Linked DNA regions of Homo sapiens: region 2 is linked to region 1. Evidence: fine-mapped expression QTL. Tissue or cell type: sigmoid colon. Region 1 holds a variant in brackets; the other region holds the start of a gene. All regions are shown on one strand. Distances are from middle to middle.

Region 1 (10,586 bases):
CCTTACAATTGTCTTTTCTGATTTTGGAATAAGAGTGTTGCTTGCCCATAAAATGAGGTGCAGGACATTTCTTTTTTTTCTGTTCTCTGGAAGAGTTTGCATGAGAAATAATTTCTCTTTCTTGAAGATTTTTAGTGGGGAATTATTTGTTTTCCATTTCAATTTCTTTCTTTTTCTCATTTCAATTTTCAATAGCTAATGGATATTAGTCTTTTACATTTTCTGTTTACTGTGGTGTCAATTTGGCACTTTATATTTTTACAGAAATGTATTCGTTTTATTTGGGCTTTCTGAATATATTAGTGTATAGTCATTCATAATTTTCCCTTCATTATTTTTGCCATTATTTTCCATTTTTATTCTATATTTACTTTGCTTCTTCTCTCCTTTGTCATCAGTATTGCCTGTCTTATTATATTTACAAGGTCCAGTTTTAACTTTGAAAATCTTCTCTGACTTTTTAATGTTAAAAATGTTTTCTATTTCACTGATTTCTGCTTTTTCTTTATTTACATCTTGTTTCCTTAGCTATATCTTTAGTTCTTTTTCTAGCCTATTGAGTTAAATGCTTTGCTCATTTATTTTTGACTTTTGTTTGTATTCTGATAAGTTTATTCAAAATCATAATTTTTTTTCTCTAGGTACTGCTTTGGGTATGTCTCACAGCTCCTGACACACAGAGCTTTAAATGTTGTATAATTTCTTTATGATTTTTCCCTTAACCAGGGGTATTCAGTACTTATGATTTTTCTTCCCAGATATCTGGACTTTCCTTTTTTTTACAATTCTTTTATTTATTGTATTGCATTATAGTGAAAGGATACAGTCTTTATTATGCCAATTCTTTGAAATTTATCACATTTTCTTTTGTGGCTGAAATAAGCAGCCCGACTCCATTTTTTGATGTCTGGCTGCCAACAGCTTTTAAGTGTCCCTCCCTTTTCTCCTGTGCCCCACATCTGGACAAGCTGATAAGAAAGCCCGGGTGCTCCCTCATTTGATGCTGGTGGGGAATTCAAACCACAGAAGGCCCTGCCTGCACATGAAAACTCTCACCCAGGTCCAGCCCTGAACCACAATAAAAACCTTTCCATTCCTTGCTCTCTCAAGCCATTCTTGACCTGCTTGGGAGGCGTGCCCTGCTCTCCTCAGAGACCTCAGTTATGCAAACAATCCAAACCATTTCAAGCCCTGTTGGTGTGTATGTGTGAAGCCATCCGTTCCCAATATTTGAAACAAATTTTGGGTAGGTTGCCTCTGAAGGTGACCATACAGTAGCCTAGCACATGGCCTGTTTTTGTGAATAATAAGTGTGCACAAAAGAAATCTGTATTCTCCATGAGATGTGTAAACTGATAGATAATAGAGGTAATTCAATTAATTTATTATGCCATTCAAATTAAATAGACTTACTTTTGTATATTTAATCTATTGTTTTATAAGAGGAATTTGTCGAAAATTCTAAATAACACAGTTTAGTCATATATTTCTCCTGGTAATATTCTCAGTTGTAGTTTTATATGTTCTAAGACTATATTATTTAATGCATATATATATATATATATATATATATATATATATATATATATATATAATCATTCTATGTTCTTGGTCTGTTGTTCTTTTGAACTAGTCCCTAATATTCTTCTTTGTCTTTTGTGATTTTTTGGCCTTATTTCTATTTTGTCTGACATTAGAATTGCTATCCCACATTGCTTTGGGTGTACATATTTGCCTGGTGTATCTCTTTTCCATCCCTTGATTTTCAATCTTTCTGTGCCCTTTCTCCTTTAAAATGTGTCTTCTCTAAGGAGCATACAGCAGCAGTTTGTTTTTCGTTCAACCTGTGAGTCTCTACTTTCAGATCATTGAGTCTAACTCATTTACATTTATTGTACTCACTGTTGCATTAGGGTTTATTTCTGCAGGCTGGCCCCCCTCTGGACACACTGTGGACTCTGCACTCCGGGACCTGTGATGCACCTAAAGAAGCCAGCCACCCCTGTACTTGCCAGGAATGAAGGAGAGAGAATGCGCATGCACATGTACCCCATGACATTCCTACAGAGAGTGTTGGCCATGGCATGGTAAGCTCTGCCAGGATGGGGTGGCAGTCAGTCTTGTTTCCCACAGCAACTGCAACACCCCACACAAGGCCCACCTGCACATCAAATACCCTAGTTCATGTTATTGTGAGTGGACAAAGGAATAGGTAGGTCCTGGTTCCTTCTGAGCACATGGTCTGGCCTGAGGCCCTACCCTACTTTCAGCTCCTTCTGGGTGTGAGTTTGGGATCCATCCAGGGGCCTGGGAGTCCCTGGAGGGAAAGCATGACCCAGAGAGGGATCTTAGCAGCAGAAGGAAACCCAGAGACCCTGAGCTGAGGGACTCCCCAGAGGGCCGCAGGAGGTCACCCTCCAGGGCTCCTCCTTCCTTTACAAATTGGGAAGCTCCACCCCGAAGGCCAGCTGCCCACCCCTTTCTGGCTGCTGACACAAGTTTTGGGGGCCTCCTTCTTGGGTGCAGGGTAGAAAGAGAAGACTTTAAATACAGTGAAACGGGAGAGTGGATATTTAAGCCCAAAGCAGTCGGTCACCCCAGACCACAGGCTGAGCCCAGCACCATACGGCTGGATGATAAATGGATGCTATTTTTAAAGAGAGACGCTGCTAAGATCGTTTCTATTTGTTCTGTGGGGTTTGTCGGGCCGCTGTGCCTACGTGTTAATGCAGCTCTCTGAGGAAGATAAACTGGAGAGGCTGAGCTCTGAACCCACCTGATACCATCAAACACCCCAGGGAAAAAAAAATGCCACGTAATAATCTCGTGAAGGTTTTCTAAATTAAGACCAAACAGATGACCGGCTGTGCACGGCGCGTACCAGCCACGTCCACACGCGGCCCCATCAGTCTCCGTGGGCGGAGCGAGGGCTCCGGGAGGCAGCGTCAGAGCGCGCAGGCCTGGAGGGCGCGAGGCCGAGACCACACAGATTACCCCCAAAGTCCCGGAGGGGCAGGGCCCAAGCCCAGGATTCCTGAGCAAGGCCGAGGGGGCCAGGGGGCAGGATCCCGGAGGCTGGGGGGCGCTGCGGTCCTTCCTGGGGGAAAACAGGGGCAGGAGAGGGGCCCTAGGGCTCCCGGGCGCCGGCCACACCCAGGGGCCCCCGACACGCGGTTCTGCACCCCCTGCCCAGCCCCTCTCCTGGGCCAAGCCAGGGTGAGCCCAGGGCCGTGACACTGGAGAGCCTGGAAGCCTGGGGATGGGAGGGCAGGATCTTCACAGCATGGAAGGAAGGAGGTGATTGAGGCCTGGGTGGAAGGAGCAGGAGGGAACAGAGTTCGCCGCAGAGCCCAGGCAGCCCCTGCCATCGCTGCCCACAGGGAGGAGAGGCGGCCGCGGGGGCGCCTGAGTGGGCGCCGGGCACCACGTCCCACCCGCACACGCCTGGAGCCCCCCAGACACGGGCCCCGCAGGAGGGGCGTCTGCAGGGCACATGGCCGAGGTCCTGGCTGCGGGGCCCGGGGCCGCTCACACCCTGCCCGGCTAGCCTATGGCAACGGAACCGGCCCTGATTCGGGCAGCTGCTGCCCCATCCCAGCCCAGCTGGGTCACTTTCTCCCCAGTGCCCAGGGCCGAGGGCCCATGCGGAGCACGAGCGGGCGCAGCAGAGGGTCGGGCTTTCTCCGCCGGCGGGGACACAGGCGTCCTGTGCGGGAGCCGGTGGCGGCCAGAGAGGCACCAGGTCCTGGGTCGGGGGCCGGGGGCATCTGAGCCTTCCCGACACCGGCCTCGCGGGTCCAGGGCTTGGCCCAGGCGCCTGGTCTGCAACCCAGACGTTTGGAGTCAGCAGAGGCACCCACGTCCCCGCGCGCCCGCAGGAGGGAAGCCGGCGCGGCAGGTGCGCTCAGCCCAGGCCAGGGGAGGCTGGACCGCGGCCCGGAGCCACGCCAGGGCCCCTCCGAGTAGGGTGAGCTCAGGCCCAGGGCCGCCCCTGACAGTCGCCCCGCGCCCCACGCCCCAACCCGGCTCCCCCCTCGGTAGATCAATAGCTTTGGAAATCTGAAAAGAGCCCAAACAAAGAAGTGGGCTTGTAAGTATCCAGCTTGTATCAGCTGATAAATGGTCCCCTCTTTAAGGGACTTATCTCTTTAGGGCTTGCGGGATGAGGGATGGCGTCATTTGTCCTGGACGCTCGTCTGGACCAGCCAGGCCGGATCTATTTAAAAGATAGCGCGATACTGTCGACAGCAATAGACAGGGTAATTGCAGAGCGGCTGCCGGGGTATAAATTACACGGCTCTAAGTGGTGGAGTGGCCGCGGGAGACTGGAGAAATTCCTGACAATTCACTTGTCCCTCTGCCCTGCCGCCAGCTTATCACGGGCCAGCAGAAGACGCGCGCTCGGGTGAAAAAATTAAGTATTGATCAAATTAACAGTTTTTACTGATCTTTTTAAGGGAGAAAAGGAGTGCAACAATTAAATTTAGAACACAAAGGACGGGGCAGGGTAACTCTTGACCCTGCGTGGCAAAGTCTGTGACACCAACAAGCACGAAATACGGTCTAGGGCAGGGCGGCGTTGCGGAAGGCCGACCCGAGGGAGAGCAGGGGCCGCTGGGGGCAGCTCCCGGGGCCAAGGGTGAGCAGAGACCGCTGCAGGGAGGGGCGCCGCGGGCCCCAGGTCCCCCCAGGCTGCCAGCAGGGCAGCCAAGCCGGAGCCTCCTCTGCGAGGTCCCTGAGCCGCTTCTGGGCAGATTCCCTCCTTCCCTTGGGAGCCAGCAGCGGCCCCGCCTCCAGCGGCCCCACATAGCAGGAGGCAGGACGGACAGATAAACCGATTCACAGGTCACCAGGTCAGGGCTCAGCCTGGAAGACTTCCTGGAGGTGGAAGAAGGGGAGGGACCCAGCACCTGCCCCAGCCTGTGTCCCCTTCTCCTTGTGGGGGGACCCTGGGCAGGATCTAACAATCCCCAGCCTCAGTTTCCCCTCATGAAAAAAGGATGATAGAGGCACTGCCCCCCGGGGTATACAAGCAGGCACAAAAGGCACCCCCCACGGTGGGGGTATTACTGTCATCATGATTATTTTGGGTTCTCTTCTCTATCTTCTTTTCAAAAATCTGGTAATGTGGATCTATGCTTTAATAGTTTTAGGCCAGGTGCAGTGGCTTACGCCTGTAATCCCAGCACTTTGGGAGACCAAGGCAGGCAGATTGCTTGGGGTTGGGAGTTGGAGAACAGCCTGGGCAACATAGGGAGACTCCATTTCTGCAAAAATGCAAAAGTTAGCCGGGTGTGGTGGCTCCACACATGTAGTCCCAGCTACTCAGGAGGCTGAGACAGGAGGATCACTTGAGTGTAGGAGTTGGAGGCTGCAGTGAGCCGTGATGGTGCCACTGCACTTCAGCCTGGGCAACAGAGCAAGACCCTGTCTCTTAAAAAAAAATGTGTAAGGTGCTTAAGTTTTACAAAGTTCACATTGCCTTCATAATATACATTGCCGCCAGGAAGGAGCTCTCGGGTGTGGAGGGGGAAGTCTGTTCCTTCTGCAGACTGCCGGCCCCAGGCAAAGCCGTGCACAGGCCCACTGGGCCATCTGCCACCCCATCCCCCCACAGGATGGAGACACAGCTTGCTCATCGGGGACCAACCAAAGCACCATGGGACCCAGCCAGTGCCAGCATGCCAGGGACGGGGAGGCACAGATTCCAGCTCCCACAGGAGTCAGAGGACAGGGAAGCCGCAGCCACTGAAAGGACAGAAACGCACAACTGGTCCCTCTGCCCACAGGGACCCCCGCCCACCTCCAGGCTCTGGACGGCCACAGGGCCCCAGCAGCAGGGGTGCAAGAAGGCGGGCAGCAGGAGCCCCACCGGCTCCTCTTTGTACAGACGCTGCCATGGTCCTGC[G/A]TGGCCATTGGACAGTGGCCAGGACAGGCTCCCCACATCCTGGCGCCCTGCTGACCCTCCCAGGCTTTTGTCTATTGAAGGCTGAGAAGGGGCATGCAGAGGCTGGGGGTCCACCACAGGCCGGGGACAGCAGGGCTGCCCCACCCCTAGGCTTGGTGGTGCTGGGCACATCAGAAACCACTGACACTACGTGGCTGGTGGGGTGGGGCTGGGGTTGGTGGGAGCCCTGGGAAGTCACCACTGGTATAAATCGTGGCACAGACGGCAGACAAAAAAACAGCACCAAGCAGCCCTTGTCCTGTGCACAGACCCCTCCTGACACTGCAAAGCCTGGCAGGACACTTGGAGCTTACCCAGCACCGCGGGAAGCGCCAGCACACAGCTCCCAGGAGCCAGGCCCGGTCCCCAGTCCAGCCGGGCAGAGAGGAAGCAGCAGAATTGCAACTCAGTCCAGGCACCAGCTCTGATGTGTTGAGAGGCCTCAGGTAGGCCCATCTGTGGTCTACTGGGGCCCTTTGTCTCTTCCTCTCTTGTGCTGTCAGAGGAGAGTCCCACCCCAGAGGCCAGTCTGATCCTCTCTGTGGTGCAGGTGCTCAGTGATGGTCCACAGGACCGGGTGTGACCCCTGGTCACTGTCTGCCCAAGGCACGGCTGAGCTCAATGGGGACCAGCACCACCATCTTGAGACGTGGGGCCACAAGAGTGGCCGTCCAGCCTCTGCTGCCTCTCCCTGCTGATGTGGCCCATGAGGGTCCCTGCTCCTGCGCTGGGCAAAAAGTGCACACAGAGACAGAGGGACGAGGGGAGGGTTGGCTCCAAGGCCACTACCAGGCCACACCCACAGAATCACCAGGCCACCTCCAGGGACCATGCATGGTCTGGTGGGGGCTGAGTTCTGACTCACATCCTCGCAGCACAGGGCCAGGCTGAGGGACGCTGGGCTGGCAGGTCCCCTCTACATAATTCCATGCTGTCCGGATTTTTTATTATAGCCACGTATTGTTTTCAATTAAACTTTTTACTTTGAGAAAATTGTAGTTTCACATACAGTTATGAGAAACAACACAAAGAGATCCAGTGCGCCCCCACCCACCTTCCCCAAAGGTACCCTCTTGCCAAGCTGTGGCCAGTGTCACCGCCCAACGCTGGCTACACCGTCCAGATGTGGGCGCTGTTCCCACCTCAAGGACCCTCCTGGCCCTCCACTGCCCACCACACCACCCGAACCGGACACCACTCATCTGCCCTCCATTTCCACAGCTGTGTCACTGCAGGCATGCCCTCTACAGGGACCAGATGGAAGGGCACCTTCAGGGACTGGCTCTTTCACTCACACGGTGTCCGCCCGCCGCGGGCTGCTGTGGCCTCCACCGAGGCCGTGCCACACGGTACATGCGGGTTGCTTCCAGATTCCCAACTGTACTTCTCCCATGAAACTTCCTTTAAAAGGGGGAAAGACAGAGAGAGAGAGAGACAGAGACAGAGACAAGGGGAGAGACAGAGACAAGGGGAGAGACAGAGATGGGGAAGAGACAGAGACGGAGTGGGGAGAGACAGAGACAGTGGGAGAGAGAGACAGAGGGAGAAACGGAGGAGAGGGAGACAGCCCCTGGCAGGTGGGAAAGGCCCCCGGGGGCTCGCCCTGGGCAGCTCCGCACCCTCCTCGGGGCCTCCCTCCAGCATCGCATCTCCCCTACTTCAACGTCCAGGCCACCAAGGCTCCGAGAGGGGACAGGCAGCTCCTCTGGCATCTCTGGATCCAGTGGGGCAGGGCCTTCTTTTCCCTCACTGGGACTCCAGCCTCTTCCCACAGGCCTGGGCTCCCCAGACACCAAGGGCATCTGGAGAACACAGACACCGGGCACCCCTGGGCTCCAGCCAGACATCGGCAGGGCCCTCAGCCGCCTGGCTCTCTATCAGGGGTCCCCCTCGAGGGTCCCCTCACTCCCCTGCCTCTGCTCCTCCCCCCACCACTGCCCATCCTAAACTCAAACCCAGCAGAACCCCACCGGCCCGACACAGCTTGAGGTGAGGGGAGCCCTGAGGACTGCCCCGTGCCCCCACGTCTACCCCCAACTCAGACCCCACAGCAAACACGCACTGGGGGACCAGGTTCTTCCTCGGGGCCAGGCAGGAGCCCAGGAACCATGCTGCTGGGCCCAGGGCCCTGGAGAGCCACACACCCCACACAGGTGTGCCCCCTGCCTGCTCCAGACCCCCAGCCCCTCCCTCAGAACTGACCCAGCACAGTGTGGGTCCCTAAACAGTCCCAAGTTCCTGAGAGGGGAAGTCAAACCCTCCGGGGCCCCCCAACAGTGCCTCCTGCCCCATCCAGCCCTATGTGGCTGCAGGGAGCACCTGGGTGGTACAGCCCATCGTCCCAAAGAACTGAGGACCAGCCGGGCGCGGTGGCTCACGCCTGTAATCTCAGAACTTTGGGAGGCCTAAGCAGGCAGATCACATGAGGTCAGGAGTTCGAGACCTGCCTGGCCACCATGGTGAAACGCCATCTCTACTAAAAGTACAAAAATTCGCCGGATGTGGTGGCGGGCGCCTGTAATCCCAGCTACTCAGGAGGCTGACGCAGGAGAATCGCTCGAACCTGAGAAGCAGAGGTTGCAGTGAGCTGAGATCGCACCACTGCACTCCAGCCTCGGCAACAGAGCGAGGCTCCAAAAAGAACTGAGGACCTTGGCGGAATGACCTCATGGGAACCCCAGGACTGTTCTAAAAGAAACACCTGGAAGGTGCCCTTTGAGAGCCAAGCTGCATCCCCAGGCCCAGCCGAAGGCCACTGCTGCTGCCTACGTACCCCCTTTGTGAGCCCCTAGGGGCCCAGCCCCTTCTTGCCCCTTCTCCGGCTGTGGGGAGGTAAGTGGGAGAAGATTCTGGGAGAAAAACAGCTCCACCGAGGCCCTGGGCGGTGGGGAAGGCACAGCGGACTGCCTGCTCTGATCCGAGGCCTGCAGCCGCAGCTGCATGGAGTGTGCGGGAAAAACGTGGGGCCAACTCCAAACGCTGCGCCTTCCGCCAGGCCCTTGGCCCGGAGGGGCACGGACGGGAGCCAGGACCCCCACTCTGGTTGAGGGGCTGCCTGGATCTGTTTCCTCAAAGCAGAGGCTGACGGGGGCCGCAATCCCCAAACAATGAGGCTGAGAAAGGAAGTGGGTAAGACAGCCACGTTGGCACTCCCAGAGCGGCCACAGAAGCAGTTCTGCAGGCAGCACGTCCCTCAGGAGACGATTTTTAAGCGTGAAGAATTGCTGTCGTCCGATCCTTCTGGAACGCACCCCCTCCCGGTTTGATGCCTTTTCTCTGCATAGTAATGTGTCTTTAAAAAAAAAGAGCCACTGATATATGTTACGAGAAGTGTATCTCTTACACTGAGACAGGACATTTTAATTCCCCGACACCTTTTAGTGATTGCTTCAATTTCCGAAGATTTTGATAAAATCATGCGGTTTAAGAGCCGCAGGATGGAGCCCGGCGGGCGGAGCGTAATGAAATGCTGCTGTTTCACAGCCTTCACGTGGCACAGCCCAGCTCCGGGGCTAATAAATGCTGCGTGATAAATGTTGGAGTCATGATTGTAAAAATATACTTGTAATTGGGTTAATATGCCTTAAAATACTACCCATCAGTTATCTTTCTCTCTCCTCTCTGTAGCGTGCGCAGGGGTGCGTGCGGGTGCAGCACCGCGTTCCTTCCCCGGCCCGCTTCCCTCCTGGCCTGGCAGACCCTTCGTCACCGAGGCCAGGGGATCCAGGGTGCCGGAGCGCAGGGCCGTCGGCTCCAACCCCGCCTGGTACTTCACCGAGGCCAGGGGATCCAGGGTGCTGGAGCTCAGGGCCGTCGGCTCCAACCCCGCCCGGGACTTCGCCGAGGCCAGGGGATCCAGGGTGCCGGAGCGCAGGGCCGTCAGCTCCAACCCTGCCTGGTACTTCACCGAGGCCAGGGGATCCAGGGTGCCGGAGCTCAGGGCCGTCAGCTCCAACAACTCCGCCCGGTACTTGGCCGGAGCAGAAGCACAGTGGGACTCGGGCCAGCCAGGAGCCCATCGGGGGCAGGGCATGGCACCTGGACCTGAGGGACATCTCGAGTGTTTCGCAGACAAGGAGACAAGGCACAGAGGCCAAATGAGTGGCCCCAGGCCCCACAGCCACGGGAGCAGCACTGGACAGGAGGCTGGGGAGGCGTGCGGCCTCGTCAGCACAGGTGGAATGCATGAGAAAGAATTGTGCAAATAGCACAATTTTCAAGGGTGGGGACTGCCCTCAGCCCGGGGGACCAGAGCACCTCCCCTACCTCTGCAAGAGCCTAGGCGGGCCTTGGCCCAGCCCAGCCCACCCCGCTTGGCCCTCTGGGAGGCTGCGCCCCCTCACAACACACACATACATACCCACACTAGTCAAACACACGTGCACAGACACCACACACCCCGCCACCTGCCAGCCACACGCATACTCACCCCAGACACCTGCACAGGCACTCCGAGTCCCAGTGGGGCCAGTGGCGCTGAGTGTTGGCTCCCAGGAAAGAAAACGGCAGGGCAGAGGGTGTGGGCTGCATGGCGCTGTGGCGGTCCCTTGGGGTACTGCCGCCCCTCCCCCTCCTATTTCCTCTCCTCCCCCTCCTCCTCTCCCTCTCCCTTCCCCTGATGCAGGCCCCACCACGTGTG
Region 2 (9,121 bases), 660 kb before region 1:
CCTGAGCAGCTGGGATTACAGGCACGCGCCACCATGCCCAGCTAGTTTTTGTATTTTCAGTAGAGATGGGGTTTTGCCATGTTGGTCAGGCTGGTTTCGAACTCCTGACTTCGGGTGATCTGCCCACCTCGGCCTCCCAAAGTGCTGGGATTACAGGCGTGAGCCGTCGTGCCCGGCCCGGTCTACTTTTAAGATCAGTCTAAGGCTGGGCACATTATCTCATGCCTGTCGTCCCAGCACTCTGGGAGGCCTAGGCCAGGGGGATCACGTAGGCCCAGGAGTTCAAGGCTGCAGTGAGTCGTGATCGCTCCACTGCACTCAACATGGGCGACAGAGCCAGACTCTTTTCAATAAAAGAAAATGATCTCAAGTGTACCCTGCGGAGGACACATGGGGCCAGCATGCGGCCTCCCCTGCCACTGAGCCCACCTTGGAGACATGGGGCCTTCCTGCCACTGAGCCCACCTGGGAGGGTTTCTGAAACTTGCAACCAAGAGTCTTGCTTGTACCACATGATTCTGCAACTGTCAGTCAGTACCAAATATTCACAGTGCCCTCACCCAGTCCAGAACATTCTTTTTTCTTTTCTTTTTTTTTTGGTGAGACGGAGATTTACTCTTGTTGCCCAGGCTGGAGTGCAATGGCGTGATCTTGGCTCACCGCATCCTCCACCTCCCAGGTTCAAGCGATTCTCCTGCCTCAGCCTCCTGAGTAGCTGGGACTACAGGCATGTGTCACCACACCCGGCTAATTTTGTATTTTTAGTAGAGACGGGTTTCCCCGTGTTGCCCAGGCTGATCTCGAACTCCCGATCTCAGGTAATCCACCCGCCTCGGCCTCCCAAAGTGCTGGGATCACAGGCGTGAGCCACTGCGCCCGGCCCAGAACATTCTAAGTAAGTGAAGGGAGGAAGCCTCCAAAAGCCATGTCAAGGAGGAAGAAGGGTGGAGAGTCAGGACCACACACAAGTGGCCCTGGGGGTGGGAGTAGGCTGTGCCCTCCCCATTCCTTAGGCCAGAGCTTGACCCCCAAGGCTCCTGAGCGGGCCCAGCCACTCAGCTAACACTGCGCATGGCACACAAGGGCTGCGGGCTGGCTCAAATTACATACAACACCCAACCAAACGCACGAGGCGGGTTACGCTTAAACCATACGACGGCTGTGCGGCATCGTTTTCTTTTCTGCCTCAATTTATCTCACTAGCAGTAACCCCGAGTTCAAGTCAGCCACACAGGGAAGGTGGATTTCCCTGCAGTCAGGGCACCACAGGCTCCACTTCAGAAGCAACGGCACGCAGAACCCAAAACAAAGAACACACAGCATACACCTGCCCTGGGCATCTCTGACATGGTTGGTGCTCCTGATAATCTGCCTTTTAAAAAAGTGAAGACTAGCTAGGTGCAGCAGCACATGCCTGTAAGCCCAGCTACTCGGGAGGCCGAGGCAGGAAGATCCAGAGCCCAGTTCAAATCCATCCTGAGTAACAGCAAGACCTCGTCTCTTAAATTAAAAAAAAAAAAAGGAAGATGACAGAACAAATTTGAAGAAATTAGAAAGCTATCTGGTTCCACAGTTCTACCTAAAAACCCATTCACACCACAAGTCCAAATTCCTAAAAGCTATGAAAACCATTTTTTCCTAACTCACTTGACAGCAAATCCTGGTCTATCATAATAACCTCATTTGGGATAAAACCTGACATGAACTGATATGGGGTTAATTACAGACTTTAATTATCCCACAGTGAGAATATTTATTCATTTAATTACAGAAATATTAATGTATTCAATTACAGAATACTTTCCCAAGTCTTCTGGGAGTATCCCACGATATACAGGTTATATGCTGCAATGACCATTCTGAAACCTGAAAAATTCTGGAAGTGTAAACATCTGTACTCAAGGGTTCAGATTACCAGCCATCACCATGTTTACACAAGACAGCCTAAACTCCCATAGCCTATGTTCTAAGGTTGCTGTTCAGACAAAACTTAATTAAGTATGTTTATATAAAATACTTAATTCAGCTTTCACACTCTGTTTCAGTTCAAAGAGGCTTCAAAGTACTTAGGAGGCTGCAGGCCACCTATTAAGTTTACAAGGAGGAAATCTACAGCTCCTAATTGCATTGGTTATTTTTATCTCCTGACTTGCCTAGATAGCAAAGGGAAACAAGTTCTTTTGCACAACCTCAGCAGCTGCCCACATTTCCTTGTTCTTCTTCCTGGGTGCTAAGTGACCCACAAGCTTCTTTCTTTATACGAATCTTCCTCTCCGGGCCCCAGTGAGGGTGCATTCTCCATCCCTCCCACCAAGATCCGTGCCATCTTCTGCTTGGCCCCTTCCCAAAGCTCACACTGTCTGTACCACCCCTAAGGATCTGTCCCTGTGCTGCCTCTGTCTCTCCACCCCTTGAGCACAAGTCTGAAGTTCCAGAAAGCAAGTCCTGTCCACAATAAACTTCTTAAAGAATGAAGATAACCACCTAGTATTTTCAGAATAAATGATTTGATCTGAGAGAAATCTTCCAACTGATGTGAAAGAATATCACACTTCAGCCCCCACTTCTGAAAGAAGAGCTTAGACTTTCTGACCAAATCATACCCAAAATCTGTTTGGTTTTGACCACAATGGAGACAAAGTGTGTGATAATGCTACAGTCAAAATGTCTCCGCAGGCCTTTTGTGATAATCAGAATTCTGGGATAGTCTCCTGTCTGGTCACAGAGCAGGCACCTGGACAGGCTAACCCTCCAGCCCTGAGAGGTACCAGGGAGCTGGTGAGGGTGAGGGCTTTTGTGTCGCTTCACTCCCTCTCCCTGTGCCAATACAGCAGAATAGAGTTACGCTTCCGCACCCAAGTCAACTGTGTTTAGCCCATAAACTTCACAGCCAGTGAAATATGACACACCTCCAGGCACCACTGGACAAAAAATGTAAGGAAAATCCACAAGAGAGAATGGGACCCACTGGCACTGGTGATCGATTCCGTGTGAACGGAGAGGACATCCAGGGAGCTAGAAATAGCATGCAGAGACAAAACTGACTCAAGACTGACTCAAGAGGACTTAAGCCGAGTGACCTGTCCACTCTGCAAGTTCTATATAGGTCACAACCACTGGCTCTGCTTCCTGTACTACACACGGAATCACACGAGTAGATGTTCACCGGGAAGAGAAACACTGAGGTGTTGAAAGACGAAGGGGGATCACGAGACACAGCCCAGTCTACCCTCGGCCAACCCCCCCACCCCCCAGGCTACAACCGCAACTACCTGCAACACGTGTGCACCCACCAACTCTCAAGTTCCCTGGACTGTAGAAGAACCAGCCCTAACCTCCAAAGTCCAGTCCTGTCCCTGCCTGCTCAATAACCCCAGATGTCCGGCAAAAGGCCAAGGCTTAAACCCACCTCCTGCACCGCTCACCTCCTGACTCCAGCTGTCGGCCTTCTAGGCACCGTCCCTCAGTCTCCGCTGTGGGTCCCCACCCAAGCTCCCTGCCTGCCACCATCCCCCACCTCACCGTAACATCTTCCCCCACCCACCCTGAGGGGGTTCCCCAAGCCCCAGGCCTTGCTCCGACTTGACCCTACTCTTATGACAAGAAAGTACCCCGACCCGGTCCCAGCCTCGCCCTCCGCAATCACCGCCAGCAGGCACTCACCTACGCCCGCGCTATGACCTTCGCCTGGCCCTGACCCACGCCCTCGGCAGAGACCCTCCCCTGGCCGACCCTGACCCACGATCCCGCTGGGACCCTCCCCAGCCCTAACCCACGCCCTTCCACTCCGGGCTGACGCTGCCCCCAGCGTCCCGGAGACAACACTCCGCGGCCGCACCCGCGCTGCCGACCCGGGGCCTCACCTTCGGCCAGGACCCGCCGCACCCGCAGCCGCAGCTCGCCCAGTTCCACCGTCTGCCCCACGAAGTCACTCTGGTCGCGGCCGGAAGCACCGCCCAGGGAGCCTGGACCCGCCAAGAAGTCGAGCGCCGACTGCAGCAGCGACATGGCGGTGGCTGCGCCGCACCCCGCGGCAGCCGGAGTGGTCGGGCTCGGGCTCCCGCTCCCTCGCCGTCCGGGTCAGCTCAGCAACCGCCGGCCCGGAGGTGCACCATCTTCCGCCTCGACGCCGTGACGTAGGCGCCCGTGAGGACGCGTCGCGTCAGGCGGCGACCCGGCCTAGCCCCGTCCCCTCCGCCGCGGCCTCACTTCCTGGCTGCGCGCGCAGGCGCGGAGGTCTGACGGAGACAGCGCGTGCGCGGCGTCGCCGGGCTTGCGATGAACTTCCGGCTGTCAAGCTCCCGGCCGGGCTGACTCAAGCGGAGGCGCGCGGAACAGTCGCCGAGGCGATTCCCGCCCAGGTAGTTCAGCGCCCCAGTCCAGCTCCCGGTACCGTTCCCCACATGGTCTGTTTTGTGGGAGGCTCCTTCTCAGGTGTCTCCGGTTTAAGCGCTTCGCCATCCTCTGGGTGGAGTCAGCCTCCCGTTTGCTGTTAGCGCCGCGTTTGCGAATGGGTTCGCGAATTTTTCTCTCAGTTGGCTAAGGAGCAAGGAGTTAGCGTGCGTTAAGCTTTCAGTAAATACTTGGTTTTCGTCTCATGGAGGTCGGAGTTTCCTGTGACGCTTAGTGAGTAAGGTTGGCAGCCCCCTCCCAGCAGCCAGGCAGGCAGTTTGCAGGGGAAACGCTGCTGCATTGCTCTGTCTTCCGAGGAGAGGGCCAGGGTCTGGCCTGGGGCAGTGACCAGTAGTGGGAGCCGTGGGCTAGAAAAACCTTCGTCCTGGGCAACCACAACACTGCAGAGACTGCCCTGTGACCCTCAAGGTTCGTTCTCACCCTGACATTTTCCAAGGCAAAAGCAAATCCTCATGAACCACTTGGAAGGGTTCGTAATGCCCAACTATTTGGAGATGAAATGGTGACTTTCCTTATAGGATAATAAGGAAATGGCTCACAGACAATGCATTTTTAGTTTTTGGCCCACACAGTATTTGGGGGTTGGGAGTGGGTAGCAGGAGGTGAATTAGTTGCTATCATTTAAAGACTGATGCCAGGCGCGGTGGCTTACACCTGTAATCCCAGTGCTTTGGGAGGCCGAGGCAGGCGGATCACCTGAGGTCAGGAGTTCCAGACCAGCCTGGTCAACATGGTGAAACCCCGTCTCTACTAAAAATACAAAAATTAGCCGAGCGTGGTGGCGGGTGCCTGTAATCCCAGCTACTCGGGAGGCTGAGGCAGGAGAATCGCTTGAACCCGGGAGGCGGGCGCCACTGTACCCTAGCCTGAGACTCCGCCTCAAAAAATAAATAATAATAATAATAATAATTGAAAGGCCTAAATGTTAAAAACCTAGTTTTCCAGCTTCTGTGGAAAAATCAAACCTGTCAATATTGGACCCAAAATGATGTGTGTTACCAATTACCTAGAGTGGTCCCTTGAGGTAAGACACAGTCATTTGCCTGACCAGATGGGCTCATGTATGTTACCTGCCTGGTTCCTATAGTCATTTAAGGTTGCAACCCCTTCAACAGAGTTATTTGTTCTCCAACTCAAAAATGGATTCTAAAGCTCACATCAGCCTCTTAGCCGTCCCAGAAGCTAACATCTGTTATCTTTATCATTAAAAGATAATAGCCTCAGCTCGTTGGAACACTTATCTATGTTATGGAATGAAGTATTGCATGAAGCCAAATGACATCTTTAAAAATATATATAACAAAAATAACAGTAGCAATAGCTTAGTTTAGGCACTGATTTATTGCTTACAACACCCTTTTCTGTAATAGTTCATTGTAGTGAAAACATCTTTGTGAAGAAAGCACAGTATAATTAACCCCCTTTATTTTGGGATGAGAAAATATGCTCAACAATGCCATTATTCGGCCAGGGCCAACAAGTGATACAACTGCAATTCAACGCAAGTCATGGCTTTTCCAGCCAGTGCGTTTGTCTGGTCGACTGTGGAATAGAAGGATAGAGAGCTCAGGAAAGAATCCCTGCTAGAGACAGATATCTGGGCATCCTCAGCATAGAGGTGGCAGTTGGCTCTAGGAGCTGAAGAGAGGACCAACAGAGATGGTGTACTAGACATAAAGAGGTTAGAATCTTCAGAGAATAGACAGTTTGTGGAGAAAGAGCAGTCAGTGAAGGAGGAAGAAAACCAAGAGAGTGTCGTAACAGAGCCAAGGAACGAGGATGTTCGGGGCAGAGAGTGCAGCTAAGAGTGTCGAATGCCACTTAAAAGTCAAGTAGAAAAAGAAATGGAAGATATGTGTTGGATTTATTCACAAGGGATCATTGGTGACCTCACCAAGAATAGCTTCATTGGAGTAATGAGGTGGAAGCTACATATTACCGTAGAGGGATGAAGAGATGATGAGGTAGAGATGGCAAGTGGAGATAACTCAAAATGTTTGTCTGTGGAAGAGAATATGAACAACTTCAGGCCAACAAATTCGGCACCCTTAGCTCCAGGGAGCTACAAGGGTGATGTAGTATTGAGATGTTTTAAGATGAGAGATTCTTGAGCAGCCTAAAGCGGATGGAAGGGAGAGAAGGTTTGCTGGTACAGAAAAAAGAGGAATAATAAGATAATTCTATCTTAATGAGATATCTTCTATCTCTTAGAACATAGGAGGGGAATGACATCAAGAGCATAGGTAGAGATATTTGCTTTGGACATAGGAAAAACACTCAGGAAGAAAAATGGGCTGCAGTTGTAGGTGACCTTATGTATTTATTGGAATGAAGGTGAAGGAATTCTCTAATGACTTCTGTTTTCATTGTGAATGAGGAAAGAAAAACATCAACTGAAAGTGAGAGGGGAAGTAGGAAACCCAAGATTTAAGCAGTGTCAAAAAGATCTAAAATAGCTATTATGAGAAACCTAGCAAATAACTCACTGGAAAGCATGAGAGCGTTTAAGCACTCATCTGGAGGCCATGAACTTATACTGGCATGACCTGGGATCAGCTGGACATTTCTAAACCTTGTAATCACTTTGGAAACCAGAGTCAGACTACTTATCTTACGAATATTTCTGGAGCACCTTTATTTATTGGCATTGAAGTAGATGCTATAGTAACACCATCTTAACCCAAATATCTATCTCCATATCTCATCTGAACTCTCAGATGTTTGTTCTTAGATACTGCTACATGTATAAACATGTATATATCCAAAACTGAAGTTATAGTCTTAATCCCTATAACTGATTTCCTAAATTTCATAGCAAAGAGTATTGCAAGAGATTAAGAGGATCATTTTGTAATGAAGAAGGGGTGAATTCATCGAAAAGACTTGATAATCCTAAACATTTATGCACCTAATAACAAAGCTCTAAAATACACAAAGCATAAACTAATAGCTGCAAGGAGAGAGAAAAATCACAATTGTAGTTGGAGAATATTCTTTCTCAATAAACGATAGGATAGATACCCAGAAAATCACTGAGGATATAGGCGACTTGAACATGACTGTCAGCCAACTTGACCTAATGAATGTTTATGGAACACTCCCCACAATAACAGCAGAATACACAATTTTTCAAGTGCATTAAAACATTAAGCCTGATCATATTCTGTTCTATTAAACAAGTATGTTATCTGACCAGAATGATATTGAATATTAAAGTAGAAATCAGTAACAGATTGGAAAATCCTTTCAATATTTGGAAACTGAATAACTCACTTTTGTTTTTTGTATATTTTTTCAACTCACTTTTAAATAACTCATGGGTCAAAGAAGAAATCAAAAAGGAAATTAGAAAGTATTTTGAACAGAATGAAAATGAAAATGCAGCATTTAAAACTGGTGGGATGCAGCTAAAACAGTATTAAATGTTAAGTCTCAAATCAGTGACCTCAGCAATCACCTTATGAAACTAGAAAAGTTGGCTGGGCACGGTAGCTCACTTTGGCAGGCTGAGGTGGGCAGATCACTTGAGGTCGGAAGTTTAAGACCACCCTGGCCAACATGGTGAAACCCCATCTCTACTAAAAATACAAAAATTAGCTGGGTGTAGCAGTGCATGCCTGTGCACGCCTGTAGTTCCGGCTACTTGGGAGCCTGAGGCAAGAGAATTGCTTGAACCCGGGAGGTGGAGATTGCAGTGAGCTGAGACTCTGTCACAAAAAAAAAAAAAAGGAAACTAGAAAAGTAAGAGGAAATGAAACCCAAAGTGAATATAAGAAGGCAGATAATAAGTATCAGAGTGGAATTCAAAAAAATAGATAACAAAAGCAATAGAGAAAATCAGGGAAACCAAAAGCTGATTCTTTGAGATTAATAAAATTGAAAAATCTCTGGCCAGATTGAACAAGAAAAAGGCAAGACACAAATTACCAATATCAGGAATGAGAAATGACATCACTACGGAAAGGATAATCGGGGACTATTATTAAGGACTTTAGGCCAACAAATTCAGCAGCTTACACTAAACGAACAAATTCCTGGAAAGCACAAACCACTTAAGCTCATTTAAGAAGAAATTGTGTTGGGCCCGGCGCGGTGGCTCACGCCTGTAATCCCAGCACTTTGGGAGGCCAAGGCAGGTGGATCACAAGGTCAGGAGATCAAGACCATCCTGGCCAACATGGTGAAACCCCATCTCTACTAAAAAAGATACAAAAATTAGCTGCGCATGGTGGCATGTGCCTGAAATCCCAGCTACTTGGGAGGCTGAGGCAGGAGAATCGCTTGAACCAGAGAGTCGGAGGTTGCAGTGAGCCGAGATTGAGCCACGGCACTCCAGTCTAGCGACACAGTAGGACTCTGTCTCAAAAAAAAAAAGAGAAATTGTGTTGTATGAAAGGATGAAAGAGGCCCTGACATGCATACAATTAAGGCATTGCAACATACTTTGTGTTATCTAACCATCTTTTTTTTTTGAGGGGATGGATACCCCATTCTTCATGATATGATTATTACACATTGCATGCTTGTATCAGAACATGTACCCCATGAATATATACACCTACTATATACCTATAAAAATTAAAAATGTAAATTTTTTAAGAAGGGAATAGATAACCTAAATAGCTCTATGTCTATTAAAGCATTGAATTTATAGTTGACAAATCTTCCCTTAAAGAAGACTCCAGACTTGGCTGGGCACAGTAGCTCA

The links. PIP is the estimated chance that this variant, and not a neighbour inherited with it, causes the effect.
Region 2: TMEM175 starts here. The variant in region 1 is fine-mapped to the expression of TMEM175 in sigmoid colon (GTEx, PIP 0.98).

What each region holds. Positions count from the first base shown.
Region 1 is chr4:1,589,409-1,599,994 of GRCh38, forward strand. It overlaps a transcript of FAM53A not described here. Among named protein-coding and RNA genes, the nearest start is that of FAM53A, 90 kb to the right of the region's middle. RefSeq lists enhancers at 4,702-5,217, 9,305-10,131. The variant G/A (reference allele first, on the strand shown) is at 5,909.
Region 2 is chr4:928,180-937,300 of GRCh38, forward strand. TMEM175 (transmembrane protein 175) reads left to right here and starts at 4,281. Exons shown (of 11, transcript NM_032326.4): 1 at 4,281-4,361. It overlaps GAK (cyclin G associated kinase), which reads right to left and starts at 4,137. Exons shown (of 28, transcript NM_005255.4): 1 at 3,864-4,137. The coding sequence starts at 4,008. RefSeq lists a silencer at 3,923-4,242 and an enhancer at 4,403-4,722.